3 separate regions of the Homo sapiens genome follow, and all the other regions are reported to be linked to region 2. The links are microRNA targets in miRTarBase. Many come from high-throughput screens and were not tested one by one. Region 2 holds a microRNA gene; each other region holds the end of a gene's coding sequence.
Evidence for each region. The annotated mature microRNA hsa-miR-873-3p reads GGAGACUGAUGAGUUCCCGGGA and lies in region 2 at 7,233-7,254, opposite strand. An mRNA with a match to its seed (bases 2 to 7 or 8) in the 3' UTR can be bound and repressed. Matches are read on the target gene's strand: a 7mer-m8 pairs with bases 2 to 8, a 7mer-A1 pairs with bases 2 to 7 and ends in A, and an 8mer does both.

Region 1: the mRNA of NUP42 is a reported target of hsa-miR-873-3p. The part of its 3' UTR that is shown has no 7-base or 8-base seed match.
Region 3: miRTarBase lists NBEAL1 as a target of hsa-miR-873-3p. Seed matches in the 3' UTR shown: 7mer-A1 at 6,541-6,547.

Annotation. Positions count from the first base shown.
Region 1 is chr7:23,198,467-23,209,309 of GRCh38, forward strand. It overlaps NUP42 (nucleoporin 42), which reads left to right. Exons shown (of 7, transcript NM_007342.3): 6 at 992-1,076; 7 at 1,702-2,540. The coding sequence ends at 2,279. Among named protein-coding and RNA genes, the nearest start is that of NUP42, 22 kb to the left of the region's middle. RefSeq lists a silencer at 7,498-7,777 and an enhancer at 7,968-8,027.
Region 2 is chr9:28,881,657-28,892,499 of GRCh38, forward strand. MIR873 (microRNA 873) reads right to left here and starts at 7,299; the gene lies at 7,223-7,299. All of the region lies in intron 2 of LINGO2 (leucine rich repeat and Ig domain containing 2), which reads right to left.
Region 3 is chr2:203,214,715-203,225,557 of GRCh38, reverse strand. It overlaps NBEAL1 (neurobeachin like 1), which reads right to left. Exons shown (of 56, transcript NM_001378026.1): 56 at 364-8,305. The coding sequence ends at 8,204. Among named protein-coding and RNA genes, the nearest start is that of CYP20A1, 19 kb to the left of the region's middle.

The DNA of each region.
Region 1 (10,843 bases), not on the chromosome of region 2:
CCAAAGTGCTGGGATTACAGGCGTGAGCCACCACACCGGCCAAAGAATGCTTTTGAGGCTTCCAAATGAAAGAAATCGCTTATGTTTGCTTTGGATGATTAAGAAAGTCTTCTTGAAAGGAAGGAGCAAATACAAAGTTCCTTGAAAGTAGGATTAAGATTTCAGTAAGCAGAGATGAAAGACATTTCTAGAGCACAGAACAGCAAGAACATAAAGTACTTTCAGGGAATGGGAAATGTTTAATGGATTTTTAGTCATAAGCTTTTAATTATATAATAGTGGATCTACTTCGAGTATTAGACTGGGTATTCTATAAAGGTCCTTTTTACCTAATATCTAGATTTCTTGATAAATGCAGATCTACCCTTATAGACACTGAAAAAAATTTAAAAATATTTTTCTGATTATAATATCTGCTCATTGTAGAAATTTAGAAAGTATAAAAAAGCATAAATAAAATTTAAATCACCTGTAATTTATCAGCCAGAGATAATCACTGTTAACTTACTAATGTACATTTTTTATGCATATTCATATTACTAGTTGTGATTATACTGTTTATACAGTATTATGTCTTATCCTTTTCAACATCATATTATGGGCATTTTCCATGTTAAGCATTTAACTTTGCCTTTTTTAATGCACTTTTTTCTTCTCTTTTCTTTTTTTGAGTCAGAGTCTTACTTTGTCATCCAGGCTTTCCCAGGCTCAAGTGATCCTCCCACCTCAGGCTCCCAAATAGCTGGGACCACTGGCTAATTTTTTATAGAGATGGGGGTCTCGCTGTGTTGCTGAGGCTGGTCCCAGACTCATAGGCTCAAGCCCTTCACCCTCCTCAGCCTCCCAAAGTGCTAGGATTACAGGTGTGAGCCACCACACCCAGCCTTTAATGCACATTTTAAAAACTTGAATTTGTCCATAAAGTGTATAGAAAAGATACTGGAGCACTATTCATCAAGCACTTTATTATTTGCACACTTTTTTTTTTCAGCTCTCTGATGTAAAGGATGGAGTAAATCAAGCAGCACCTGCATTTGGATTTGGCAGCAGTCAAGCAGCAACATTTATGTCGCCAGGTAAGTGATAAAGTAATGCAGGACTTCACTGATTTAGAAAAATTAGATTTTATAGGTTTCAAATTACAAGCCTGAATCGCCATTTTAAATTACCTTCGTAAATTCTACAACCTTCCATCATAGAGCCTCAAAGCATTTGACTCATTAGACATTTGTGAAAGGGAGGCCAGATTGGGCATGTTCTTTGAAAGACACTTAAGCTTTAGAAGTACATTTTAGGAATGAGTTTTCAGGAGTTTCGTAGAAGTACATAGCTATGATAGCAGCACCTTTGAGAACTTTCTTGTCACTGTGTATAACAGCATAGCATTGTCCTCAGGTAGCAGCTCTGGTGAGGTAAGTAGAAACCAAAGTGAAAGTCTATTCCCTAGTCCCTGTGGTTTCTCCTTGGGTGAAGGTCGATCAAGGTGAAAATGGGATTGTTAGCAGAAAAGACAGGCAGCAGGCTTTAGTGGGTAGTTCTAGCCTCTCATTTTTACTTTCCTCATCTCGTCCGTCCAGTAAGCTTCTCAACACTGAAACATGACATAAATAAGAAAAAAAGATAGGGGGAGGAAATAATTGTGACATTTTTCTGACCGTAATAGATTTTTGTTGTTTTTTTTGTTGTTGTTGTTGTTTGTAGGCTTTCCAGTCAATAACAGCAGCAGTGATAATGCTCAGAACTTTAGTTTTAAAACAAACTCTGGATTTGCTGCTGCCTCTTCTGGAAGCCCTGCTGGTTTTGGGAGTTCCCCAGCATTTGGAGCTGCAGCCTCTACCAGTTCAGGTATCTCTACTTCTGCTCCAGCTTTTGGATTTGGGAAGCCTGAAGTCACATCGGCTGCATCATTTTCATTCAAAAGCCCTGCAGCTTCCAGTTTTGGATCACCTGGATTTTCAGGACTTCCAGCTTCCTTGGCAACAGGTCCTGTCAGAGCTCCAGTGGCCCCAGCCTTTGGAGGTGGCAGTTCTGTGGCTGGTTTTGGTAGTCCGGGCTCACATTCTCACACTGCTTTTTCTAAGCCATCCAGTGACACTTTTGGAAATAGCAGCATATCCACTTCTCTGTCAGCCTCAAGCAGCATCATTGCAACAGATAATGTGTTATTCACACCCAGAGATAAACTAACAGTAGAAGAACTGGAACAATTTCAATCCAAGAAATTTACTCTGGGAAAAATTCCATTAAAGCCTCCACCTCTGGAACTTCTAAATGTTTAAAAGGGCAATTTTAAATACAAAAAAGAATGATGTTTAAAATTGCTTTGAGTGATTCATACAGAGATGTATATATGCATACATGTATATATTCATAAGGAATATAAGCTTCCATCAATAGTGATTTTAAATTTGATTTTTTTCTTAACTCTAAATATTTAAGTAAAAAGTAACAAAAACTCTGCAAGCAAGGGAATTTTTTTGTACTGTAATTTTGAATGGAACTGAAAAATTATGCACGAATAAAGTACTTTTCTCATGCCATACCACTTTACTGTCTCACAATTTAAAGTTTTAAACTTTTTTTTTTAGGAAGGAGATAATTTCTGTAATTATTAGGGGGAACATGCTCAAATATTTAACCTACTTTTAGAGTAAACATTAGTAGCATGACTTCATGTTCAGGATTCTCTCAAAGAGATAAATCAGTTTGTAAAGAGTGACAAGCTTTTAGTTTTAGAACCATAGGGGCATTTCCCCCCCGATAAGTTTGGTTCCCTCTCAACTTTGGCGGTCTCGTGGACCACCATTTGAGTTTTCTTCAACAATCTTAGGCTGCTTTTTATTTTGGCCTCACTTTTATAGAATTCTATTTATTCATCACATTAGTCTGTCAAATGGATGAGTTGTAAGAGAAACAAATTGTGATCTCATGTGAATAAATAATGTGTGTAGTGGGGTCAGGATTCACCAGTTTCTGTTTCTAGATCTTCTCAGGCATGGCCAGGTACAGTAGCTCACACCTGTAATCCCAGCACTTTGGGAGGCTGAAGCGGGCAGATCACTTGAGGTCAGGAGAGTTCGAGACCAGCCTGGCCAACATGGTGAAACCCTATCTCTACTAAAAATACAAAAAATAAGCTGGGTGTGGTGGCGGGCACCTGTAATCCCAGCTACTCAGGTGGCTGAGGCAGGAGAATCACTTGAACCCGGGAGGCAGAGGTTGCAGTGAGCTGAGATCACACCACTGCCCTCCAGCCTGGGTGACAGAGCGATACTCCATCCCCTTTCCTGCCCTCCCCCAACAAAAAAAGAATTATTGTGCATGTTTGGATCTCCCTGTGTCCTCAGATTGAGGGAGTAAGATTTATATTTTACATATGGATGATCCAAGAAACTAAATGCCTGTCACGAGTTGAAGCAGGTATATCAGACTTCTGCGCTTTCTCAGTCCTCAAAAATTGCATAGCTAGCACTGCCAGAGCAGTTACTAACACGGTTCTGGCATTCAGCTGATTTTTCTAAGTGAATATAAAACCTTACATAATAAAAGATATGCCCTCCAAATGATTTTAACGTATGCAAAGGATTCAGTCCTCAAAAGACCTGCATTCTCCATTACACTTTTGTTGTTGTTCTTGTTGTTGTTGTTGTTATTGTTGTTGAGACGGAGTCTCACTCTGTCGCCCAGGCTGGAGTGCAGTGGCGCGATCTCGGCTCACTGCAAGCTCCGCCTCCTGGGTTCACGCCATTCTCCTGCCTCAGCCTCCTGAGTAGCTGGGACCACAGGCGCCCACCACCACGCCCGGCTAATTTTTTTGTATTTTTAGTAGAGACGGGGTTTCACCATGTTAGCCAGGATGGTCTTGATCTCCTGACCTCATGATCCGCTTGCCTCAGCCTCCCAGATTTCTGGGATTACAGGCATGAGCCACCATGCCTGGCTCCATTACACTTTTTGAGGAGCTGCATGACTCATCTGACAGTTCTGGAACCCCAGTGTTTGGTACAGAATCTATACTATAACCAGGGGATATATATTTGAAACCATGCTGGTGTAGAGATGGTAAATAGAGCATAAGTTCCTTTAGAAGGAGCAAGATTAAAACAAAAAGAGCATAAATTCCTTCTTTGGTCTCAAGCTCTACAGACTTTCCAGTATTCGAACTAATACTTGAATCCTAGAATTTTCCTGCCCCGCCCCCCCCCCCCCCGGGATGACCCCTACACTACCTCTAAATTGCATACAAGCTCCCTGAGGTCTCAGTTGAACTTCCCAGTGTCCTGGAAGATCTCAGAAAATCCTAGTTAAAAGCCCATTGTTTCCAACTGTGCCTGATTATAGGAATCACCTGGGGTGTTAAATAATATATCCAGATAACATATCCAAATTACAGGAGCTGCCCATTGGGATGGGCTTGGGAATATGTCAACAGGTATTCCTTGTGGTCCTTCAGGCAAGTTTGGGAAACAGGACTATCCAGCTGGATTTAGGCTACTTAGTAATACCTGATTTGGGAGTTTTAATTGTTGAAGTCTGTTTTCTGTGCTCCCATATAGACAAAAATGTGGGAATTTAACAGGATCCGAAGTTTTTTAAAAAGCACAAATAAGTGCTACAGGCTACTAAAAAATTTTGAGAAACTAAAGCAGAGAGGCCCACAAAGTAGAAACTAGCACCATGCATACATACTGGTGTCAGAAGTCAAGAAAACTGGTAACTCCCAGACCTAGGCTAAGGGGCATCGCGGCTTCAGAAAATCAGAAACAGGTAACAATGAGGTGGCAGCAGCTGGGTATAAAGGTAGGTTGAGTGTTCAGACCCCAAGAGGGAGGTAGTAGAAGGGAAAAGGCACCCACAACAAAAGGATGTGCCAGCATCTTCTGGATGGTATCTCCTAATCTCATATCCAGTGAGACTAGCAGAGCTGGACTAACTAAGAGGCATACCCTAAAATAGGCAAAAATAGCCTGCCTTCACAGCTGCTGTAATAGCTGTCCTTTTCACCTAAGGTCTAGAGCAAGTGACAGAATTGTAGATAAGGTATAGCAAATAAACTGATTTAACTCGATTGATTATCTGATCACAGATTAGAAGGGGAGAATGGTAACAGCTGAGAGCTGATTAAAAGGGGAGAGAAAGTGAGCTGATATTAAAACTAAAAGGTATAAAATGATTTAGCTATGCAGTATTATTCATGAGTAAAATAATTCAACTTGAAGCATCAAACAATGATTTAATTGTGGTAGATACATACATTGGAATACTAAACAGCCTTTCTAAATGACTTAATAGAGAATAACTTGGAAATGTTTTCATTCTGCAATCAGTGGACGAGAGTTTGCTATAAAAAGAGCATGTACAGTGTGATCCAATTTGGAGAGAAAGAATATATTAATGGGGGGGAGGCTAAAACTTAACAATAATAGCTCAAATTTTAGTGAGTTTTTGCTATGTGCCAGACAATGTCCTAAGCATTCTGTATCTAGTATATTAGCAAATTGCCTCATCACAACCATATAACCTAGGTGCTATTATAACAATTCTCATTTTCAAAATGAGAAGAGCAAGATTTGGAGACATTAAATGACCTATCCAAAGTCACTCAACTTCCAAGTAGTTGAGTTGTAATTCAAACACTGAATTTAAAGGGGCCATGCTTTAAACCACTCTGCTATACCACATACTAGATTATGAGGACACTTTGTCTTTTTTTTTTGTATTTTCTACAATAGCATTACCTTTATATGTTTCCCCCATTTTTCCTCATATGAGTACAATTTGCAGTCCCACCCCAAACTTACTGAATCAGTCTGTATTTTAACAAGACCCACCAAATGATTTGTATGCACATGAACATGTCAGAAACTATTTCATGTGTAAAGGAGATGTACAAAAATGTACACAGTATTGTTTATATAGCAAAACAGAAAGCACCAGAAGTCCATCCACGGGATAATGGATAAACTTTGGCATAATGGAATATAACTGTATAATGACTCAAGTTACTTGTATAAACAACCACCAAAAAGGGGGAAGGTACAGAATAGTATGTATGATATACCATTTAAAGTACAAAAGAGCAAAACAATACTGTAGTATTATGTATGGATTCATAAACACAGGAATAATAGCATGTGGATAATAAGCACTGATATGAGTTGGCTGTGTCCCCACCCAAAATCTCATCTTGAATTGTAATAATCCCCATGTGTCAAGGGCAGGACCACGTGGAGACAATTGAATCATGGAGCTGGTTTCCCTCATTCTGTTCCCACGATAGTGAGTTCTCATGAGATCTGATGGTTTAGGGGCTTCCCCCTTTCCTGGGCTCTTATTCTCTCTGCTGCCGCCATGTGAAGAAGGATGTGTTTGCGTCTCCTTCTGCCATGATTGTTAAGTTTTCTGAGGCCTCCCCAGCCATGCAAAACTGTGAGTCAATTAAACCTCTTTTCTTTATAAATCACCCAGTCTTTATTAGCAGTGTGAGAATGGACTAATACAAGCACCAAATTCAGAACAGTGTTTACCTAGGGAAAGAAAAAAAGAAATGGGATCTGAAAGGCACAGACAGGGAGCTTTATATGTGACTTAAAAAAAAAAAAAAGCTTAATATGAGAAGCATAAAATTTGACAGAGCTGGGCATGATGGCACAAACCTGTAGTCCCAGCTACTTGGGAGGCTGAGGCAGGAGGATCATTTTGGCCCAGGAGGTCAAGGCTGCAGTGAGCCATGATCACACCACTGCACTCCAGCCTGCATGACAGAGTGAGTCGCTGTCTCAAAAAAAAATTTTTTTTTAATTGACACTGGGTGATGAGTAGTACATAGTAATACGCTGTTGTTTTCTATACTTTCCCACATGCTTGAAATAAGTCTGCAAACTTTTAAATATTTGATTTAGGGGGAAAATGCCTTTTTCCCCACCCTAAATTGTGTATTATCAAGTCACTTTCAGATTTCTGCAGTGATCACTGTGAATCCACTGGTTTGCCAAATGGTGTCCAAGCCTGTTGGATTAAATATGTCATGCTGATGAGGCTTGTCATTCAAACACTGAAGCACAGGAGTAAAACTAGAGAACTGACTGTAGAGGTGGAAAATGTAATTTTTGCTATCAGACTAACGAAATATAAAAGGTACACATTTGTGGAACAAAATAAAAATCTTTGATTCACTAGTTGTGTGTTTGTTTCTCTAATTACACTGGACGAGGAAAATAATCTAGAATCAACATATTAAGTAGTTACCTTGAGGCTCTTTTCTCAACCACACATCATCAACCACCTGGAAATCTGTTCCTTTTTCCTGGTTATTTACAATGCAAGCAGCTTTTAGCCCTGGCAGCACAGAAGCAGAAGAATTGAGGAATTCTCTGCCACTCCTGTAGTATCCTTTAACAGGTTAAGTGGTTGTCAAGCTTCTTTTTTAAATTTGTAAACCTATTTGAATCAATTTGTGACTCCTGCATTCCGGCCCGGCAGAAAGAGCTCGAAGAGACGCAGAGCGCGGCGCGCTCCCCCACGGCCCTCCAGGCCGGCGGGTGAGATGGGGAGATGAGCTAGGGGGCCCCGGACTGGCTGCGCCCTCTGCCCTGCAGACACGGGGGGCCCCGCTGTGGCTGCCCACTGGCCGGGCGCAGGCCTCGAAGCCGCGGCGAACCTCTCTTCCCCACCCCACCTCGGTGACTGTTGGCGGCGGCTCTCCCTGCCCAGACCCCGCCGCCGGATCCTGCCCGGCCTCGACGAAACCCCGCCGAGCCGCCGAGACGCAGTGTCTCCGGGTGGCGGCGGGAGAGGCGGGCCGGGAAGCATGGCGGCCGCCCCAACACCGCGCGGCGGAGACCGTTAGGGTGTGCAGGGCCCGGGAAGGCGGTCTCGCGACGCAGGCAAGCTCGGCCGCCTCTTTAGGCCACGGAGCCGCGCGAGTCCGGGCCCGGGTGACCGCTCTGTTCCCACTGGACGAGACCTGCCGAGTCCTCAGGACAACGGACAAAGGCCTTAACGGGCTTGGGAGGTGAGCGAAGTCCCGAACGATGACGGGTGGAACAGTTAGCGGCCTTCGGGCGGTTGGTCTCGTTCTACCAGAGCTTGCTGTCGGAAGAGAGAAATGGTGGAATGACAAGCCACGTCTGGCCTCTTGGAAATGCCCACCACCCTTTGGGAAGATTTACTGGCCGTTTATGGAAGGCCTGTGTATTTAATATGAAACAGCTGCTCTCAACACTACCCAAACCTTTTAATAGAAAACATTTGCCACATCTAGCCCTTCTATGAGCTAGATGGAAAGAGGTTGCTGATGTATGATAAAGTTAGAAAATCACACATCTTGTAAATTCTCATTTGCTTAAAAGAAATCATAGAAAATAAATGTCTTCTGGAGACGACTTTTGGAAATGGAGTTGTTAACACGGCCTCTGGAAGCGAGACGTCCACGTTTGTTAAGTGGTTTAGAGGACATGGAGCTGGAAGACCTGAGAAGGAAGAGAAGAAGCTTCTGTGCCAGACTGGTCATATTTAGAAGACATTTTCATATTCTCTCCATTGTTTTGTGTGCATTTCATTCCTCACTACTGTGTATATGGTTGACAATGCTAAGCTTTTTTGAAATGTCTATTCTTTTTAGATATTCTGAAGTGCCTGATATATGTAGAAAAAAATAACCTTTTGTAAATATCTTTTTGTTACAATTCATATGAAATGTTTGGTGGGGGAATGGCCCAATCACCTGTTGAGTAATACTCATTGTGTTTGTGCACTGGTTCAGGGGAGGAGGGGGAAGTGCAGAGATCTCTATGCCACTGTGCTTACAGCGAGGCAAGATTAATCATTATCTCTGCGCATTTTGTTTTACTTGTCTGTGTATATAGTGTACATAAAGGACAGACAAGTCCTGATTTACAACATCTAGTCTTTCTAGATATTAAAGAGGTTGCCAGTACATGATAAAAGTAGAGTTAGTAAACTAATATATTTTGTACATTTTGTTTTAGAAGTCCTAGGAAAGATTGTCTTCTGAAAATTTGAGCATTCTTGCCCGCTGGGTTGATGGAGATGGGAAGGGTTCTAGGCCAGAATGTTCCTATTTGGAAGACTCTTTCAAATTATAACTGTTGTCACATGTTTGCAGTTTATTCAAGACTGCTGTGTTCGTAGTGGACAAATGAACTCCTTACTTGAAACATCTAGTCTATCTAGATGTTTAGAAGTGCCCAATGTATGTTAAATGTAGAGGTAGTAAAATACCACTTCGTAAATATCTTTTTGCTAAAATTCATGGGGAATGCTGTCTTTTGGAAATTGAATTGTGAAGCCACCTTTGTGAGCAGTATAGTACTGTCTATACTTGTTCAGTGGTTTAGAGGAGATGGGAGGGAAGACATTGCAAAAGATAATATGCCAGTGTGTTCATACTTGGACATTTTCAGACACCATTTTTTGCATGTTTTGTGCATGTTGTTTTGCTCTGTATATAGTGTATAAAACGGACAAATGAGTCCTAATTTTGCAACATCTAGTGTCTAGATGTTAAAGAGGTTGCCAGTGTATGACAAAGTATTTAGTACAATTAGCATATTTTGTAAAAAAAAATTTGTGACTCTTTATGACTCATACCTCTCCTCCACAAAAAAAAAAAGAAGACATTACTTGAATTATCTATTATTTCAGAAGTTTCTCAACTCAGAGACATTTACATAATTCGGTGGATTCAGCATATAGTCCGGTATAAGGAAAAGGTTGCTTGATTGGTTAGATTGTTATTCCTCAATATTAAGGACCCATCAAATGCTACACTTAAGGATTCAGTCCTAACACCTACCCTGTAGGTTTGGAATCAGGCTCTGAAGGATCACGGGAAGTTCCAGGCAAATGATCAACGCTCAAGCAAAAGAGGGAGAGGAAAAGAATAGAAACATTGCATACAAATCCAAATGGTGACAGGTGCAAAGACCAAGAAAGGAGTGCATTAAAATGCTAGAGAGTAGAGTGAATGCAGTCACTAGGGGCTACAGCCTGTGATAACTTCCCAGAGGAAATGGATTTGAGTAGTTTTGAGAGGGAAGTGAAATCATAACGGGAAGGAGAAATAGCCAAAATAGAAGTCACCTTCTCATAGAGACAAAATGAGCCTGTGGAGATTACATTAACCTTAGATAGCGTTTGAAAATATTCTTTAAAGAATATTTACTACCTTGCTGAAATTAGGTTAACTTTTCTAAGTATCACCTGTAGAATATGTAATACCCACCATCTGGTGATTTTGTGAATAGTAAATGAAAAAATGAACTCTAAATGCTTAGCAGAGAAATTATGCTCAATTCTATCATTGAGAAAAATAATGCTTATTCACTATAGAGGATTCCAGTCACATAGAAATACATAAAATGGGTCAGGTGTGGTGGCTCATGCCTGTAAGCCCAGCCCTTTGGGACACCGAGGTGGGAGGATCGCCTTAGTTTAGGAGTTCAAGACCAGCCTCGGCGACATGGTGAAACTCCATCTCTACAAGAAATACAAAAAATCAGCCGAGAATGGTGGTGTGTGCCTGTAGTCCCAGCTATTTGAGAGGTTAAGGTGGGAGGATCGCCCGAACCAAGAAGCCAGCAGTTGCAGTAAGCCAAGATCATACCACTGCACTCCAGCCTGGGTGGCAGAGTGAGACTCCCGTCTTTTTAAAAATAATAATAATACAAAATTAAAATGATATTCTACCTTCCCAATAACAGTCTTTAATGTTTTGCACACATTTCTCCAATGTTTATACAGTCTCATAATTATCAATGTTATACTATTTGCATCTTCTCAAAGAACTTTCTCTGTCAGCACAAATAGATTAATGTGCCTG
Region 2 (10,843 bases):
AGTTCAGGGTTACATGTGCAGGATGTGCAGATTTGTTACATAAGTAAACGTGTGTCATGGTGGTTTGTTGCACAGATCATCCCATTACCTAGGTATTAAGCCCAGCATCCACTAGCTATTCTTCCTGATCTTCTCCCTTCTACCAGTCAGTCCCTGCCCTCTGCCAGGCCACAGGATGTGTTGTTCCCCACCACGTGTCCATGTGTGCTCATCATTTAGCTTCCGCTTATAAGCGAGAACATGCAATATTTGGTGAAAACCTTTTTCTTATGTTAACTATTGTCTTTTCATTTTCAGTGGGTTTTGAGGCTTTAATATTGTCAATTATATTTTGCATTAATCTACCTGTACAGCATTTTAAATCTGAAGCACACAGCGGACCACTGTATTAGTAACTTTCACACCAATGGTCATAATAATCACAATAATAATCAAAATCTGTACTTTCTTTATGTTCAGTAAATTCAATTCCCAAAATTGCCTGTTGCTTCTAATTTCCTTGAATCACAGATACGATTTAATCTTGTATATTCAACTTTGTATATTTAATTTTGTATAGACAGCTTCCAAAGGGCAAAAGAGAGAACTAAAATTCACTTAGCCACTAAAACAGCATTACCTGTCTAACAGCATATTCACAATAGATGAAGAGATGTAGCACAACATGGTCCAAAGTATGCAATCTGGGGTTAGACAGTCCTGAGTTTGAACTCCAGCTCTGCCATTTGCTAGTATATCAGGATTATTGAGAAGTTTGGAAACAATGATTTGGTACAGCTACTAGAACACTGTATGCATTTAACTAATGGTAGCCATCTGTAAACTCCAGTAATACAACAGCATTAAAGTTCTACCTGCTTAGAGAGTGGTAGACCTTCTATAGAACCAAGTTAGCAAATATTCAATATCAGTACACTAGAAATATTTCAGAAAATAGATTAGCTATGCTCCTCTAAGATAAGGGCTCTCAACCTTTTCATTATAACCATCTCACACATGATTATCTCTACAGTCTTGGTTGTCTGTCATTGTCCTACACCTCGTGGACCACACTGACACATATTCAGTGACTCACACCATAAAGTAGTAGTTATTATTGTTACCTCATCCTCCCTATCCTTTGCTGCTGATACTCATCATCACCAAGTCAATTAATTTTCATTCCCTAAATGTCTCTGCAATGTATCCTGTCTCTTTTCTGTAGTTTTTAAATCTTCACTGCCACCATCTTCTCCTGAGCTATTGTAATAGTCTTGTAATTAGTCCCTTACATACACACACAGCTCCCTCTGATACATTATTTACACTGTAGTGATCTTTAAAATAAACACACATACACAAATGTGTTAACTGGCCTTCCCCAATTCAAACACATCAACAACATCCCAAGTCCTTAGAATAAAAACCAAAGCCCTTACCACAGCCCACAAGATTATAGATGATTTGGAGCTGTTATCTACCTGTTGAGCTCAATCCAAACTCCTTCCTCCTTCACTCTCTGTGCTCTGGTCATGTCAGTCTTCTTTAATTTATTTATTTATTCATTCATTTATTTAGAGACGGAGTCTTGCTCTGTTGCCTAGCCTGGAGTGTAGGGGTGTGATCTCAGCTCACTGCAACCTCTGCCTCCCGGGTTCAAGTGATTCTCCTACCTCACAGGCGTGAGCCACTGTGCCCGGCCTAGTCTTTTTAAATTGCTGTACGTGTTGCTATTGTCTTTAACCTCAGGTTGTTTACATAGTGTTCCTTCTGCCTAGAACATTCTCATCTTTCTACCACACTCACTCTGTTAATCTTTAATTCGTCAGATATCAGATCAAACACAACTTCCCAAGGAAAGCCCTCATTTCCCCCACTCAAACCATAATAAGGCAGGTATTTCCCTTCTATGCTGTCACAGCAACTGACATTTCCCTTCAGTGTATATTAATCACTTTTAATAATTCAAATATATATAAAATATGTGTGTGTGTATATATATATATATATATATATATATATATATATATATATTTGGTTTTTTTGTTTGTTTTGTTTTTGAGATGGAGTCTTGCTTTGTCACCCAGGCTGAAGTGCAGTGGCATGATCTGAGCTCACTGCAACCTCCACCTCCAAGGTTCAAGCAATTCTCCTGCCTCAGCCTCCCGAGTAGCTGGGATTACAGACATGCGCCACCACACCCAGCTAATTTTTATATTTTTGGTAGAGATGGGGTTTCACGGTGCTGAACAGGCTGGTCTCGAACTCCTGACCTCAAGTGATCCACTAGCCTCAGCCTCCCAAAGTGCTGGGATTACAGGCGTGAGCCACCGCGCCCGGCTAGAATATGTTATATTGTGTTTATTATATTAATATACTTATTATATATTAAATCATTAAATGTTAATTCCATACAGACAAGTGTCATGCTAAGTTTTCTCAGTTTTAATCCCTGGAGAATAGCGCAGTGTCTAAACAAACTAATACTCAACGAAAATTAGTTGAACAAAGTATAAAAAGAAATCAGGGAATATTTTTTCACTGTTATTTTCCCTTACAGTTTTTGTTTTGAAAATATTTTTTTCTCCTGTAAACTTTCAGTCTGCTCTTTTTTCCAAAGATGGATTGTGTCTGGCATATATAATCCAAGCCCTCTGCCCACCTATTACCCTTGATAATTGTATTTGATTAACCAGTCACATCACAGATGTTGCTACAATTTGATCAGCAAACAGTTCTTCTGATCAGCACGAAATAATCACTATCAGGGAAAGTGAATGTAATTCTGAGTTTTGTTAACAAATGGAGACTTACTATCGAAAAGAATATAATTTTGTTAGAATTTTTGAAATGTAAAAAATAATTATCTAAAAAGAGCAAATATTTAGATTACTTCCAAGGAATAGGACAGAGGTTCAATTATCGACCTGCGGACCTTTGTCCATCTGTAAATAATTCCCAAATTGTAAGTTGACTGTGTTTAAAAGTTTATACATAAGTAAGTCAATGGTTTAGAACTCAATGTATTTTCCATATATATATATATATAGTGTATGTATGTGTATATATATATATACAAATTTGTAATATATAAATTTGTAAAACTATACACATACACATTATATATAGTGTGTGTATATATATATAGTGTGTGTGTATATATATTCTTTAGCAGTATATATATATATTTCTTTAGCAATTGTATATATATACATATATACACTATATATACACACATATACACTATATATGTATATAGATACTATATATATGTATTTAGATACTATATATAATATTATATATAATATATATAATATATAATATTTTATATATATAATATATATAATATATAATAATATATTATATATATATATATATATATATATATGGCTAAAGAAATAACTTTAATGCATTTAGAAACCTCAAAATCAAAATTTCCCTGCTGGCACTGCAGGGTCCCCTCCCTTTGGCTGGCCCTCCTCTCAGAACACTGAGCACTCCCGGGCACTCAAAGTCTCTCTTGCCCACATGTGGGTAGGAGGGACACAGGGAGACCCTGCATTGTCCCTAATAATTGCAACGGTGCCCCTTGTGCCTGTCAGTCCGGGTGAGGTTGCCCCATGGGTGCAGTGTGGAAGTGGTGGCGACCAGAAGCTGAGAGAGGCCTGGCCAGCAAATGGGACTAGGCTGGACTCCCTGGAAGCAGCAGGGAGATATATATATATACACACACACACACATATATATATACACATACATACATACATATATACATAGATATATATACACACACATATACATATATATACACACATATATACATACATATATATATACATACATATACACGTTTATATATATATATATAAAGTCTGTGTGTACATATGACAACATATAAACATTTAGGCCCACACAACACTATTTAATTGCATAGTTAAAGTGTGTCAATAGCAATTAAATATTAAAGTCTATCTATAAAAAATGCATTTGAAGTAGTAGTTGCACTAGGAAAGATTTTTACAAGAACTGGTGCTATTATGGAACTAATTGCAATGAATAATAAAACTGAACTTTCTAGTTGCCTAAGGTTCTGCTACTTCTGAGGGGTAGAACAGCTATCCTTAGCTTCCCAGGTGGTGGAACATTTGAACAGGATGCCTGTAGGTCAGGGATCTGAGGTTGCCATGCAGAAACTAGGATCACTATTTTTAGTCAGTACAAACAGCTGAATTCTCCAGAGAGTTTCAAACTGCATAAACCAGATCCACTTTCACTAAGGTTCCTAGAAGCGCCATTGAACTTGCCTAATATACTCTTTTATCTTGGTAATTAATTGTTCAGCAACAAGTGAGAGTAACTATACAGTTGTTATATTTGGCTATTTATTTTCCTATGGTGGGCAAATAAAAAACAAAAATTTTATTTTAAGTATTGATACAAATAAATAGAATAACCTAGAATTGCTTTAAATTTCCTAAATTTTCATAAATTAACTAAATCAACGAGTTATGTTTGCTTTCAGTGTACTGACATGCCTTTACTCAAACTCAGAAATGAAATATACAGTGAGAAGGGGAAGAAAATTAATTGCAGAGAAGATAAAACATTGATATATTTGAAAGACATTATTGGCTAACATAATTAGGATAGAAAATGGAGGCTCAAAAAATTGGATCTAAGCTAAAATGGTACTATGAAAAAAATTTTTAAAACAAGCTTTTATGGAAGGTCTAAAATGGTATATTCCTTCTAGAAAGAGTAATTTGAAGAGCCAATTAAGTCATACTAGGCAGTAATCTTTCAGTTAATGGTATTTAATTAAAATGACAGGGCTACTCCTTGGATTTGAGGGTAATGACAAATGAAACTTTAATTAGAGTCTTACCTTCCAGGAAAGAGTATGGGCCACTGGATTTTTGCACAAAATATACCACAGTTACTCACATAATTTCTTTTGTTGCTTATTTCTTTTCTTCCAATTTTAAGTAATATATGTACTGCTTGTTTGTTTTTGATTTCCCGCTTTTACAGGTGAAAGTCTGTTTTTCTCTCTATGTAATTTCCCATAATTTATTCTAATGAGGCTAGCTAGTGTCATCTACAGAATCCTAGAATGAATTCAATACTAAACTAAAACTTTGCTTTTATGAGATAACATGCAATTGTGAGACACATTTAGGAGTTTCCACTTAGGCAACTTGAGATAAACTGAATATAATACATTCAAACAGAACATTAAATGAGAGAGAAATAATATAGAAATAGTAGTTAGAGCTTCGTCAAGTTAATATTAGAGATGCAGGCTTTTAAACTGAAGTGGATCTAACATATTTTAGATATTTAAGAAATGTTCCCCAGTGGGTTGACCACATTTCATTGCTTAAGGTAATGCAGAGCAGGGTATGAACAAGAAAGCCTAATGTATGATTTCCAACGAGTGAGGCAGGACCTTGTACATATAATGCTGTGTCCATTATAATAATGATGAACAAAGAGCTATACAAACACGCTTGTCAGTTTCTAACCCCAGACTCTGGCAGAACAGTTGAAAATAGATGCTCAATAGAGATGTCTGCTGAGTTGATGCTGACATATAAGTTCCATGTTATTGATCTACATGTGGGAAAAAAATTGAAAGGATTTTTTTTTCTCTAGTTATTGAAAGTCAAGGGTCAGATGAGCTCCTTGAATGAGGCCTATTGTTCTAACTTGCCCCTGGTCTTAAAAAAACTGTTGGCATTAGGATGAACTATACATTCCAGAAAAGTGATTCTCAACTCTCTCCTGATTGTACCTGATGACATGTTGCAGAAGCCAGTAATTTGTTACTAATATTAAAGAGTAATGTTAGTGGATGATTTGCTTTTATTAAAAAAAAAGAAGGGCATGTTCAGGGTGACATATATGCCACCTTATTGCATTCTAGTAAGATAAGCTTTTCAGAGGAGACATCACAACAAGCTACTGGAAATAAAATACAGCCAACACATTGTTTTATCTCAGCCACATCCAGCAGTGTGATCACACAGACACAAGGATCATGGGTTTAGATGTGGGGCAAAAAGACAAACAAAAAGGCTGAGAACTGTAATCCTAGATTGTGAAAGAGAAACAGAAAGGTCTACTGACCAGTGATTGACGATACTTCTGTCTGAAAACATGCTTTCAATCGATTTAATATTTTTCCATATTTATGCCAGGATAATTAAAATCAATTGAAGAAATCCTACAGAAATAAGCTCCAACTGGATTTAATTTGCAAAAAATTTAAAGGCTGCACATTGTTTTAGAAAAAAGACAGGTCAAAATGAAGGTAAGATTTGTATTACCAGCTTACATGTAAGAACTTCATTGAATGTTTTGAAGATAACATTTTGAGGAATGTAGAAAAACACTGAGAGGAACTTTATCACTAATTATTATAGAATATTTAACACAAATATAACCTTTAGATATGATTCATTTTTCTAAGTGAATTTGAAAGTATTTAGGTATGACTATGAGTAGAGTCTCTGCTACTCACTAATGTAGGATACACATCATCAACTTCATACATTTACTATATTCCTCCTTCAGTAATTGAATTTGTCACTCTTGTTAAAAGAAGACCATAAACAGATTATAAAGGATCAACCTTATGTGGTTTCATGAAAGGCTGCTTTATGAGATTTAACAACAGATTCATGCTATCAATGCTGATGCTAAATGTGGTCCATTGAACAATCCTGAAATATAAAAAGACTAATTACATAAGTTGATGTTACACATGAACATGAACAGAGAAAATATTTTCTCAGAAAAAAATTAGATAACAATCTCAACATTTATATACTTAAACTCCTGATTAGATACAACCAAGAAAAAAAGTTTAAGGGAATACATATGATTTTTAATTTTTTCCTTTCCTGCAAGGTCTATAAATTATCTTTCACATAAGCACTGGCACCATTCATTTCATTGAATAATTTATGTCTTGTAGAATGTCTGCTGAGTTTACAAAGATAAGATCAGGACTATTAGAGATGCTTCCCTTGGTGGGATTCAACACCTCAAGTAAACCTACTGACATCCATGTTGAGTGGACAAGTTAACCCTTGCCTAACTGAATTATTTTGCATTTTCAACATTACTTCCTTGTTTAGAACTTAAACTTATACTCAGAACTTGGAGGAACTGACAACAGTGGAAGGTACCAGCCATAAAATGTTGTCCATTGCAAAGCAGTAGAAATGAGTAGGAAGATTTGTGGGTGTTCCCGGGAACTCATCAGTCTCCTGTTCATTTTCAATAGGAGACTCACAAGTTCCTGCAAATGCACACAAACTTATTCTAAGCAGGAACCATTTGCAGATAAGCAGCTGTTCATATTTCCTCCATTTCAAGTGAATACAGTAATCTGTTCCCCTGGAGTATCTTCAGCAGCTTGCCTGGTGCTTGTGATTCTTTTCAAACAGTTTTGTGGGCATCCCAGACACTGGTCACCTTCATTTATGTATTCAATAAATATTGATTGAGCATCCCTTAAGCAGGTCACTGTTCTTGTTTTAAAGATAGAGTGATAAATAATTTCTTGCCTTTAGGGCAATTCTATCAAACATTAGTCCAGTTCACTTTCAATAATGCCTGAGTCAAAGTATCAGTCTCCAATGCCAAATGAGAGGCAGTGGTATTTAAATTTGTACTTCCTGGTGCAATGGGAAGAATCTAGCAAAGGGAACTACGAGATCAGAATTCTAGCCCTACTGCAGCTAAGACATAGCAGTATTTCCATGTCACACCATTTAACATGTTTTTTGCTTCAGTTTTTTTTTTAATTTTAAAAATTATTATTTGGGCTATTTTACTTTTCATTCTGGATATAAATGTGTGATGATGATATAATAACTGGAAACAAAGAATGGAAGTGTTTATACATAAATATAATGTTATTGAAGTTGTCTTTTTCTATTAAAAAACCTTTGTTTCAGCAATTACTGTAAATTTTAAATGTATTATTAATAACTGGAATCTTTTCTACCAGCCAACACATAAATTATTTTTCTCATATAAAAACAAATGGTTAATTTGCCCATTTAATGGCTCCTAACATTGAAACTTATTTTTATCAGCTTTAATGTCTCCATTAGATCTCAGACTCTAGCTCTAACGTTCTAAGAAGACAGGCTCAGTTCTTGACCAGGAAGGTGGTAATCATCAAGGTAAATATTTTTCCAAGACCAGGTGTTAGTCTTTGCAGTTTTTCTGAAATTTTAAGCTCTAGAAAATTTTGCCTATGTTAGTTTGTTCAAATGAAAAAAATAAATATTCCACTATCTCTTCTCCCCATAAAAAGCATGTGTATAGGCAATTATGCCTGTTCACACACAGGGTCTCTGTCCATAAAGGTTCCCAGCTGGTAAAATTTCATGCACTCATGCTTGGTACAGAATAGCATATAGATCCATTTATTTTACTACCATATGCCCTTGTAAGAGGCAGTATGTAAATACTTTATTGAAGAGGTTTAATTTTTAAGTCCTATCTAGGAATTGGCAGAAATTAACTACAGGTTTTCTTGGTTTTTTGTTTTGTTTTGTTTTGTTTTGTTTTGTTTTTGTGGGGCAAAAGAAGGGGTTTTGATCTCAGTAGACTTTCCTGTCCCTGGAGCTTGGATTTCTGTTTCTGTCTCACTGTTAAAGGACTGAGACCATATCTCCATATAATTAGGTTGTGCAGGTAAGCAGTTACTGTCTTTTCCTAAATGGGTACACACTTGTGTACCAGGGGCAGCACTGCCATGGAGACCTGATCAAAGGGGCCTGCCTGGTATTTAATGAGGTGGAAGAAGAATGCCACAATGAATACAGCCTCAACTACTCTGAATTATGAGGTTTATGTGGTTGAGTGTAGAAGTTTCTCCAAATGGACCCAGAGTCAGTTACTTGTATGGCAGAGGAGTTTGGAGGACAATGGGACATTCTCTCTTTAATCTCTACTAGGGCTGGGGAAGGAAGTAGACCCCACTGAATAACCTCCTCATTATGTGGCTATATTAAAATTGTTGAATATCTATTTATGTAAATCATATGCTATAAAGGTTATTTGCTGTTAAAGTCTCCAATTAAAATTCCAATTGACAGTCAAGAATCCTTGAAATAGCCTAATCAAATAAGAGTAGATCACCACTTTATCCAAGGAATAAGCATCCTCTAGGCAGAGGCACCATCCTGTTTTTCTTTTTTCCACACCTAGAAAATCTTCAGCAGCTAACAAAATCAACTGACTAGTATATGAAATGTATTTGTAAATAAATAAATAATCAGCAACTCAGAGAACATTTATTAAAAGTTTTCTAAAGGGTAGAGTAGGTGGCTAAATAAATGTGATACAATCATTTCCTTTATAGTGTTTGCATTAACATTTTACCTAATAATAAAACGTAGGTTATTTGTGGCAAATGCATATCACAGATGCAGATATACAAAGATGACAAGGAGAAACACTAAATAGCAATAAATGGTGCAAACCAAGAAACAGAGGAGGAAATGTTGAAGCAATTGTGTAGCAGTACATAAAAGTTTAGAGTTCTACAAGCAGAGACCTGTATGTAACTATCACACATAGAATAAGCAATGTATTCTATGTGTGCCTCACATTATATTTAATCTCTCTGGGACTTAGTTTTCTCATTTCAAAATGTGGATACTAGTAGTACCTATCTCATAGTATTTTATCATTCTTATCAGCATTATTGTCATTATTGAGGGTAAGGAATGGAACAGAGAGAACAAATTGAATGTTATAGCCCTGTTACTGAATTTACATATTAATGCTAAAATCTTGAAGCAGGAAAGGAATTTCTGGAGAAAAAAAAAAGAGTATTAGTCATATTAACACCTAACCCATTATAATCCTGAAAAATCTACTAATAACATTGTCATTATAATGAAGTCTGGTACCTTTGGGGTGAGTATAGATGCTATTTCTAGGGAACTGTTTCCACATTTCTCAAAAAGTTATTTAAGATGATGAAAACTATACCCATTCCTTGTACTTCTATTAAGAGAAGCCATTCCTTAACATCTTTATAGCTCTTTGACAACCTTTCTGCTACTTATTATTATCAATGCTGAAATAAATTATTTAGAGAATACTCATGCAATTTATGAGGTCACAATAAAGAAAATGGTCAAAGTCACAGAAATACAAATATTTCTTAAATACAGAGCAACATATTTTAGAATGAGAATTTAGACTACGTGAATGCTGTAAGGCACTTAAAAGTTTATATGAGTTTTCTATTTTAAGATACTTTTTTTATAAACACTCTAACATTATTCATGTTACTACCTCTTTGGTTAATAAGCATTTTCTATCCTTATCCCAGTGTCTGATCTTTAGAGAAACAAAATAAACTGTTGGAAATAACAAACTGGGTCTTTCTTTATAAATTTTTTTACCTCATCAAATCACTATGTTCATAAAGTATACTACATGGTTGAAATAGGTGGAGATAAATCTGAATTTTAAAATTTTCACTCCATGCTAGACTGCAGCGATGCACCTATCCAGGTTTTTGATTAGAATTATGAAAAACAAGCAGTCATAATGTACTGAGCTCTAAGAGGTCAAGTTCTCAAGTTTGAGATTTGCTTAGGCTTATTTCTCCATAGTGATTGCCACTATGCCCATACACTTTACAGAAAATGTGTGAAGAGATCATGATAAAATATGAATTTATGTATTGATTCATGCTTTCAAAGATATTTGTTTGACACTAAGTTCATTACTGATAAAAATGTTCACCAATGCAATTGTACTTTTCATGCTTATTCTTGATACTGAATCTGACAAAAAGATTTCTGACCAGCTATAGCCACATACT
Region 3 (10,843 bases), not on the chromosome of region 2:
AGACAGGGTCTCTTTATATTGCCCAGACTGGTCTTGAACTCCTGGGCTCAAGCTATTCTCCAGCCTTGGTCTCCCAAAGTGCTATGATTACAGGCATGAGCCACTGTGCCTAGCCTGTAACAATGTTTTTGAGGTAGCTCTAAAGTGAAAGGCAGAATATCTGTTGTTACATATGACAAAAAATAGTCAATTGACATGTATCTTGTGCACACAGGACTACAGAAGAAATTCTGCTCATATGAGAAAGAAACATTGATCAATTTTCTAATTAACAAATACTGTATTCAATCTCTTGTCTACCCAAATAACTTAGCCAAGGATAAGTTCTAATCAGACTCTATGAACTGAGAATTACAAATCAACTGAAGAAAGTAACATCACTTTTTTTATTTGATTCAAACCCATTTTCATATACAAAGCTAATTTATTATGTACAAAATAAATGGACATTCTTAAAAAGTATTAGAATACAAATTTCCAAGGGCCTAAAATAAGTGCAAAATTTTCAATTATCTTTAATCATGCTATACAGAAACAAATCAAGTATTAGCTCATATACACACAATGAATTTTTTAAAAATAGCACTTAATGTAATAAAACAAAACATACATCTTATATATTTAATTTTAAAAGGATGAGGAAGGAAAGAATGTATTGCACCAAACTAACAGTAACTTAACTACAATGAGAATAATCAAAATTATTTATACATCTTTATTAAAAATTGCTCAGCTTTAAAATGTTTTTGGGGGGCATACAAATATCCACTGAGTCACAGTTTGCACAGTCAATAATTAGATATAAATAAGGCATAATATTTTCTTTTTCATGGTCAATTCCAGTAGAATAAGTGAGAAGGAACATTTTAAGATAAATACACAACTTTCTGAATTCCTTCAATATTTAAGTAGCAGCACAATTTCCAAGTACTTTCAAAAAACAAGTCATTCTGAATTTTTAGTTATTACGCTCTGAATTGACTATGTGCATATACATGCATTCAAGTCACTGTCACTCTCTATAACACTGAAATGCTATTGGAGTCCCAGAAAAACTGACAAAAGAGATGAATTAAATATGTTTCATATTTTTATGCCTCAGTAGATTCATTTTTATAGCAATGAATCTGAGAGAAATGGCTATCTAGCCAGATATGATTACTTTTTGCTATATTTTTTGCTCCAAGTCTATAAAAGCAAACAACTGGAGGAATGAAAGCCATACCTGTTAAGAGTTTCTAAATGGAACCAACCAGCCACATAGTTTTCTAAGAAGTTTTCTTATATAAAGCTACTTATAAAATAAGCAGTTTGCCACAAAAAAAGTTTGGTGATGTTCATCAATCACAGTCTTTGAGAGCAGCAAAAAGCAGAATAGGAAAAAAACAGTTTAAAATATAAAAGATCTTTAATAGTAAGATCTACTATAACATGCCATAGTTTTGGAAGAAAAATAGAAATTATTATCATTAAATTGCTAAAAAGTCATCTAAGAAAATCAAAATTCCAAAATTCCAAAAGAATTATTCTTTCCAAAGGAAAAAATAAAGTTATCCTCTTTAATCCCTATATACAAAACAGACGCTGACAGTTTTTCAATTAAGTCTGACTACTGATATCCTACCAGAACCACTTCTTAAAGTGTTTAGTGATTAATATAACTTTCACATTCTGAAGAGTAAAACAATTATGTCGTATACAGACAAGTATCTTTTTCCTTCAAAATAAAGAGAAGCATTTATGAATTTGTAGGTTCATCCCACTAAATTGTAAAACATGTTGCTTAGTGTCAGAATATGTTACCAAAAGAAGACAACCCAAAATAGCATTTTAATGTTGACTAGTACACTGATTACCACAGAATTGCTAGTTTTAATACATCTTAAGTTGAAATATTACCAAAATAAAAATTTTAAAGGTCCAATTGGAATAGGACTTCTTTTAAAAAGTAGCTGAATTGATAAATTTTTAAAAATCCCACCTAAATCCTAATTTTTCTTCATCTTACATTACAATGCTACATTGTAACAGCATTACAAGCCGCTAATCACTCTGTACACTGAAAAATAATTATAAATTAATTTAAATAATGAGACAGCCATTACATAAGTGGAAACACAGACACACATATACCCCTCCACTAACAGTCAAGTTTGAAAAATGAATGGGTAATTTTTTAAATGACAAAATTGTGTTATTACTATTATTGTTATATTTGCAAAATATGTTTCCAAGGAAACATGAAAACCGTACCATGAAAAACAAATATTGAATTAGTAGCTTTCTATTTGTTCTTTTCCTTCTGAATTTTCAGTTCATAAGATTATGGGCATTAAGACAAAGGTAAATATTGTTGAATGTGCCCTTTTACTTATCACTAAAGCCACTGGCTTTACAGGTCCAAATCCTGCAATGTGTTTAGAAATCACTCACGTGTGACAAAGATCAATGAGATAATCACCAAACGAAGGAGATGTGTCTGATGAATTACTATAATCAAATAAGTATCTGATAATACAGCCACTATTAAATGAGATTTTTATACAGAAGAAAATCACGTAACTCCTATACTCTAGGATGGCCTTACATTTCTTAACACAGAAAACTGAATTATTTCCTATTTGGAATTAAACATCTTAAATGTTAATGCGTTCTTCTCTGTTATACCTATAAAAAATTAAAGATTATTTCCATACAGAGGCTGTACCTGCAAAAGTCATTGGAAGTAGTAGATAATTTACCCAATGCTTTTTAATTAGGAAAATTCTATTGATTACAAGCTTCAAGGCTCTAAGAGATCTACTTTTATGTTTTAAATTTAGCATGTTAGTCATGTTTTTTTCTTCTTTAAAATGTTGCCTAATTCAAGTTTGCAAAACGTTCACTGAAAGTCACCAGGAACTAATATTAGCAAACAGATGTACTTTTCTGGAGGCAAATATTAGTTATAATTTTCAAATGTGAACAGTCTAAAGAGAGTTCATGATAAAAATAACTCAATTGAAAGGAGATTTTGTTGTTTTTGTGGCAGGCAAAACAAAGATAATAAAGCCATTCCAAGCAAATTTTAGACAAAATGTCCCTCAGGATAATGATTAAGCCTATTTTCAAATAAGTCTGAATATTGGATCTGGTATATAAAGATAAATGGACAAATTTCTATGCAGAAAAATTTTTAGGATATAACATAATAATCCTCAGACATAATTTTTTAATACCAAGAATATCAAGCAAAGAGATTCATGAAGTCCAAAGCAGTGCCTACATATCTGTATATTTATAAACTCCACAGAGAAGTCTGATCTGTAATATCCATTAAGAACCACTGGCCTAGAAACTGCCAGATTTAAATTTAAAAAAATGTATTTTTGGAGACAGGGTCTAACTCTGCCACCTAGGCTGAAGTGCAGTGGTGCAATCACAGCTTACTGCAGCCTTGATCTCTAGGCTCAAGCAAACCCCTTGCCTCAGCCTCCCGAGCAGCTAGGACTACAGGCGCTTGCCAGCACACAAGGCTAATTTTTTAATGTCTTGTAGAGGTGGAGCCCACTATGCTGCCCAGGCTGGTCTTGAGCTCCTAGGCTCCAGTGATCCTCCTGCCTCAGCCTCCTAAAGTGCTGAGATTATAGGCATGAGCCACCATGCTTGGCCTAGATTTAAACTAAAGAAGGCAGGCTGTGGTCCACATTTTAAATCATATTAAAATGATGACTGATAACACTATATTGTTGCCTAAGGTCATCAAGAAAAATACCACATGACTCTGATAAATACAGGAAAACTCTATAGAACAATGCTCTGGATGGAGTCAAGTTTAAAACAAATAATATGTTGAGCATATACAATATACGAATTCAGCAAAAAGAATATTGAGAATGGATTTTGTTAAAGAGTGATGAAAATGTTTAAGATTGCTCACTTATTGGGGAGAAACAGTTTCAGCTGATGAGAGGAACAATGCGTAGGATAAGCCATGAGTATGGCTGATGATGCAAACAAACAAACAAAAAGGAAACAAACAAACATGTTTCATTTCTTATATCCCAGTCAAAAACTGTATCCTAAAGATAGGTTCAAGAACCTGTTTCCAGAAGACAGGTTTAAATATACATATTTGAAAAGACCAATCTTTACACACACATAACCCCAACAGACACCCATATTACATATATTATTTAATAATATAATATTTATATTTAATATAGTCCTAGGACTTGCATCTTTTCAGTGGAAAGGTGGTAAAGATAATGCTACTCATTTTATAAATATATAAAAGGAGCTAACTTCCTTAAGTTCAATTACAAGATTTCCTCAGTGGTCTCTTTAGTAGTAACAATATAAAATATACATAAAGGCAAAGGTCATATCTCTATCATCATTAAATAAAAATCTGGTATCCAAGTTAACAGTTTCCCCTGACCACTCCTTTTCACACAAAATATAAAATGTCTTAAGATTCAACCGTCAAATCTGAATTCTAATTCTGAGAGCCCACTTATTCTTTTCAGAAGCATAAACTTGATTTTCAATACAAGTACTCTGAAGGATAATTTTAATATGCCCTAAATAGAGAAAAAAAAGAAACCTCATTGGTGTTCCTTGCTAATGACAGAATGAACACTTGGTATTTTTTCTTCTACAAAAGGATGCACTGCACTGTGACCTAAACAAAGTTAACAGATTTTAATTTTGTTATTAACTTAATAACAGACGTGAGCTTCACAGGCTAAAAAGAAAGACTAAACCAACTTGCCAAACTTCATTTTTATATACTTTCCTGATTTTTATGCCCTGATCTATTTTTCTTTCTCTCTTACAATTTTATCTGAGTAATGCCAGAATACTGATTGCAAACAGTTGTAAAAAAATTTTATAAAGGTTCTTTATTCTCTAAGCGTGCACAGCTATTACATGTTTTAATACTTGATCTCATTTTCCAAAAGTAAAATAATTATCTTGGTATAAATCTCTTCCTATCACCAGGATGCTGAGATTTTTATTTTTGTCATCACCAGTATCAAGAAACAAAAGCATACAAAAAGTTTTGCAAAGATAACAGACTTTTTTTTTTTTTGAGATGGAGTCTTGCCCTGTTGCCCAGGCTGGAGTGCAGTGGTGCGATTTTGGCTCACTGCAACCTCTGCCTCCTGGGTTCAAGCGATTCTCCTGCCTCAGCCTCCTGAGTAGCTGGGACTACAGGCACCTGCCACCATGCCCAGCAAATTTTTGTATTTTTAGTAGAGACAGGGTTTCACCATGTTGGCCAGGCTGGTCTTGAACTCCTGACCTTGTGATCCGCCCACCTCGGCCTCCCAAAGAGCTGGGATTATAGGCGTGAGCCACCACAATTGGCCAGGTAACAGACTTTGTAAGAGCCAACTTGAGATACTATATTCACCAATTGAAATGTCCACCTGTTATTTCATTCCAATGATACTGTTCATTTCTCCCATTATATAATATATAACTAATTTCTATGGGTAACATCTAAATATACCAGAATTCTCAAAAGTACTTCTTTCCAATTATTTTATCTAGTGATTTTTAATTCAGTAGGCTATACTCTTTAAATGAGTAATATATTATTCACTAATAGTTGTTTGCTTCTTTTAACAGATAAAATTTAAGTTCCATTCTCTAGACTGTTGCTAGTATTCTCAAAGATTTTTCTCTAAATTCCATATTTTTTTTCTTTTCTTTGAGACAAAGTCTCACTCTGTTGCCCAAGCTGGAGTGCAGTAGCGTGATCTCAGGTCACTGCAACCTCCACCTCCCGGGTTTAAGTGATTCTCCTGCGCTGCTCAGCCTCTCAAGTAGCTGGGACTATAGGCATGTGCCACCATGCCCGGCTAATTTTTGTATTTTTAGTAGAGAAAGGGTTTCACTGTGTTGGCCAGGCTGGTCTTGAACTCCTGACCTTGTGATTCGCCTGCCTCAGCCTCCCAAAGTGCTGGGATTACAGGCATGAGCCACCACACCCGGCCCACATTTTTGGTTTTTACTTTTTGGAAAAAGCAATATAAGAAATAATTCCACTACCTTGTACATCTAGTATTAGTCCAGGTAGGATATCTATTTTATTGTGAACAAAACTTATTTGTACTATAAAGTAAAAACTGCTTATTTCTTCCATCTAAAAAGCAGCATAGTAAAACATCATAAACTTAGGCATTTTTTCTAATTATCTAAGTTTTAGAAAACTTATAAGCATCCAAAATAATTTTCAAATCCAGTATTAAGTAATCTTAAAAATGAAGGCATTTTTACATCAAAATCTCTGGATAAATAACAAAATAAAACTTAGTAGGTTTTGATTTAGAAAAAGTTTCTAAAAAAATCAGTATTTTAAAAACTAAAAATCAATCATGTTAGTTCTGCCGACTTGAAATCTCCTAAAAAACTGTAAGATAAAAAAAAAGATAGCCACGGTGGCACCACGGGTGAAGCACTGGATTGAAACCTCCCATCACCCCAAAAAAGAATAAAATAAATGAATAGATGCCAGTCTCATTTATGCATCATAATTATTGCTACTTAACTTGAGACTTTGTTCAATACAAATTCCTGAAGTCTTAAGAAAAGACACCTTGACATTTAAATATGTTCTATTTTACAATTGTTGTACCAGTTTATTTCAGAGTTATTTACCTAAAACATAGCTATTTTTTCCTTAATAAAACAGAGGATTTTTACTTATTGGAAAGAAAATTCTTCTATAGCTTTTTATTAGCCCTGACTCACATCAAATCAAATCTATTCAAAAGTTTCCCTAAACAGAATCCTTTATTTCTTAAAATTTTTTTACTCACTCAAAAGATTATAAAGAAAAGGGCACTGGATACTGTGGTCAACAGGAAAGCGAAATTGCAAAAGAAAAATTTCTCTAAGATTCAACTGAGAAGACAATTGGATTTAAGGACATCTATGATTTGTGGAACAAAAAAGAATACTATTACTGGAAACAGATCCCTTTAAAGAAAGCCATGTAACCATTCCTTCCTGAAAATGCATTTAACATACAAAGTCTCTGCACAATTTCAGAGGGATTCACAAGTTCTCCCAAACACATGAAATCTCAGATTAATAACACTGGTAGTTGTAAAAGCTCTCTGACCTAACTCAAAAGATAATCTTACAAAAAAATCTAAGTTTAACAATGTCTTTGAATTCCAAATTAAATAAATCAGACTTTTACTTTAAGATCTTAATAATCAACCACAACATTTAACACTATATAATAAAATTAGCTATAATCCTAAAACATGAAATAGAAATTTTTAAATTACTATATATAAATGATTATTTTAAGTTATACATATCTTTTCAATTCATTCATCAATCACACAGATATCCTAAGTAAAAATTCAACATATTTGGGTACTACTAACTCTTAATTATTAGAGTAAAACAGTATTTGCTTAGTGAAGAAAGAGTCAAGAAATTCGGAACTTTGCAAATGCAAATTGTGCTGCAAATGCTACTTAAAAGGCCCAACTGTCAAAATCACAATTAGCACTTTTGCTTAATTATATTATTAAGGAAATACATCTGTAAAATGTATCTCTAGTTCCACTTTTTTCTACTCAATTTTTATTAAGGACAGTAATAGATTTCAGTAACTTCTCATTAGAAACACGCTAAGTAGTAATAGAATTAGCTAATGTACCAGTTTCAATATTCTTATTTTATTCTTACCATGCAAACTTGTAACTTTCACCGAGTTTTGAAAATCCAAGTGTGCAACAGATACCTTTAAAATATTATCCCCAATCAGGAGTTCCATAAATAAATTGATATATTTTCATTACAGTGGTCAGTAAATAGGAAAATGATTACTTAAGAATGTATTTAAAGCCATCTCTCTCAACTGTCCCATTATCTGTACTCTTTTATTAGAAAAATCTTAAATTTTATCATTTGGAATAATAAGAAAATTGAACCTAATGTTCTCATTTTAGTTTGTTTTAAAAATGGATACAATGACCTTTAGGAATGGGCCACAAAATCAAATCAAATGTATTTTCTCAAATACATCTTAGTATAGACCAAGAATTAGTTTATATACCACAGCAAATTGTGGTTATCTGTAAATGATTTTCAGGGATAAAAGCCTTGCAACATTGCAGAGAGTTGAGAGATGTGGTTAAAGTGACAAAGCAATAAATCAGGTTTCAGTAATCATAACAGAAAATGGAAATAACAATCACTTGGAATCTTGAGTATTATATTCAGTTTCTCCAGCTGAAATCTGGCTGAGCCGCTTGCTCGATCCCCAAAATTTTCGAGAAAGCTGACCTGAACGCATCTGTGTAAAGTAATCCAAAGAAATGAAGAATAAATATTAAGAAAAAATTAAAAAAAAGATATGTAAGACACTGATTTTGCAGAGTGAAAAGAAACAAATTGTTAGCAGAATTATTAACACTTTAAAGGTTATCAATAATAGAGAAAGACGGCCAGGTGTGGTGACTCATGCCTGTAATCCCAGCACTTTGGTAGGCCGAGGCAGGTAGATCACTTGAGGCCAGGAGTTTGAGACCAGCCTGGCCAAAATGGCAAACTTCCGTCTCTACTGAAGATACAAAAATTAGCCCAACATGGTGGCGCACGCCTGTAATCCCAGCCACTTGGGAGGCTGAGGCATGAGAATTGCTTGAACCTGAGAGGCAGAGGTTGCAGTAAGCCAAGATCGTGCCACTGTCCTCCAGCCTGGGCATCATAGTGAAACTCTCTCTCTCTCATACACACACATATACACACATAATAATAACAATAATAATAATGAAAGACTTTTACACTTATTTTGTCTTTGAGAAAGCTCTAATGTCAGTGTGTACATTTAAACAATTAATGGCCTCGTTATGTCAAAGTTACCAGATTCCTTTATTTTATAAATTATCAAAAATATGTATTATTTCATCAAAATAAGCTTCTCAAAACTATTCTTTTTTAAAATTTTTAATTAATTTTTTATTTGTTTGTAGAGATGAGATCTCACTATATTGCCCAGGCTGGTGAAGTCCTGGGCTCAAGCAATCCTCCCACCTCAGCCTCCCAAAGTGCTGGGATTACAGGTGTGAGCCAACACACCTGGCTCAAAATTATTCTTAATTTTGCTAACAAGACATACAGGTTTGGAGATTTTCTTTTCTAGAATTTGCAGTACTGTTAATGCCAATCATAAGGATAAGAAGAAAGTAAAATAAAGTTTTGATGAAAAGAAAGTAATTTTAAAATATTTTAAGGCTTTCAAAAATAATATTTAACAACAGAATGATAAAAAGTAATGTAGAAAACAAGGAGAGCATAAGCCCCTTGAAGGCAGGAATTGCATTTTGTTCACCATTAAATTTGCATCACCTACCATCCTTCCCAGTGTATAATAAATATTAACCAAATAGTAATTAAATCAGTGAATGAATAAATGTCTTTTAAAAGTGTTTATACATCCAGATGGGGCAAAAATCCCCTATGGTTTGTTGCAATTACTTTCTCAAGTGCAACCTACTTTTTAATGGTGATTCCACCGTTTTTTTTTTTTTTTTTTTAGACAGGGTTTCACTCTGTTGCCCACACTGTAGTGCAGTGGTGCAACCTCAGCTCACTGCAACCTCTGCCTCCTGGGCTCAGGCAATCCTCCCACCGTAGCCTCCTAAGTAGCTGAGACTACAGGAACATACCATCATGCTTAGCTAATTTTTGTATTTTTAGTAGAGACAGGGTTTCGACATGTTGCCCAGGCTGGTCTCAAACTCCTGGCCTCAAGTACTCCACCCACCTCAGCCTCCCAAAGGGCTGAGATTACAGGAGTGAGTCACCATGCCCAGCTTGCCACCTTTTTTAATGGTCACTTTTCTTTTTTTTTTTTTTGAGATGGAGTCTCGCTCTGTTGCCAGGCTGGAAGTGCAGTGGCACGATCTTGGTTCACTGCAACCTGCGCCTCCTGGGTTCAAGCGATTCTCCTGCCTCAGCCTCCCAAGTAGCTGGGACTACAGGCATGCGCCACCACACCCAGCTAATTTGTTGTTCTTGTTGTTGTTGTTGTTTTCTGAGATGGAGTCTTGGTCTGTCACCAGACTGGAGTGCAGTGGCACAATCTCGGCTCACTGCAACCTCCACCTTCCTGGTTCAAGCAATTCTCCTGCCTCAGCCTCCACCTCCAGAGTAGCTGGGACTACAGGCACGTGCCACCAGGCCCAGCTAATTTTTTTTTGTATTTTTAGTAGAGACGAGGTTTCACCATGTTGGCCAGGATGGTCTTGATCTCTTGACCTCGTGATCCGCCCACCTCGGCCTCCCAAAGTGCTGGGACTACAGGTGTGAGCACTGCACCTGGCCCACACCCGGCTAATTTTTGTATTTTTAGTAGAGACGGGGTTTCACCATGTTGGCTGAGATGGCCTGGATGTCTTGACCTCATGATCCGCCCGCCTTGGCCTTCCAAAGTGCTGGGATTACAGGTGTGAGCCACCGCACCAGGCCTAATGGTTGCTTTTCCAGGGTATATTTATTGGAGTGATAAAAGATAAGCCTCATACAAAGTACTAGAGGCTTTGGCATGCTTCTTTTGCCAAATACATTTGCAGATGTATTTTCTGAAGCACTACTACCTTACCATCTGATTTTTACATATGATTTTCACTCTAATAGAATAATATATAAACTGGTACATGATTAAAAAATACATATTAATCAAGATTTTGATGTTTTAGATAAAAATAGATCTTGAAATAGAAATATCTTTTTGTAACTAAATATGGATCTAGTTCATATTCTAAACTGTAGTACAGAGTCTTGCTCTGTCACCCAGGCTGGAGTGCAGCAGCACGATATCCGCTCACTG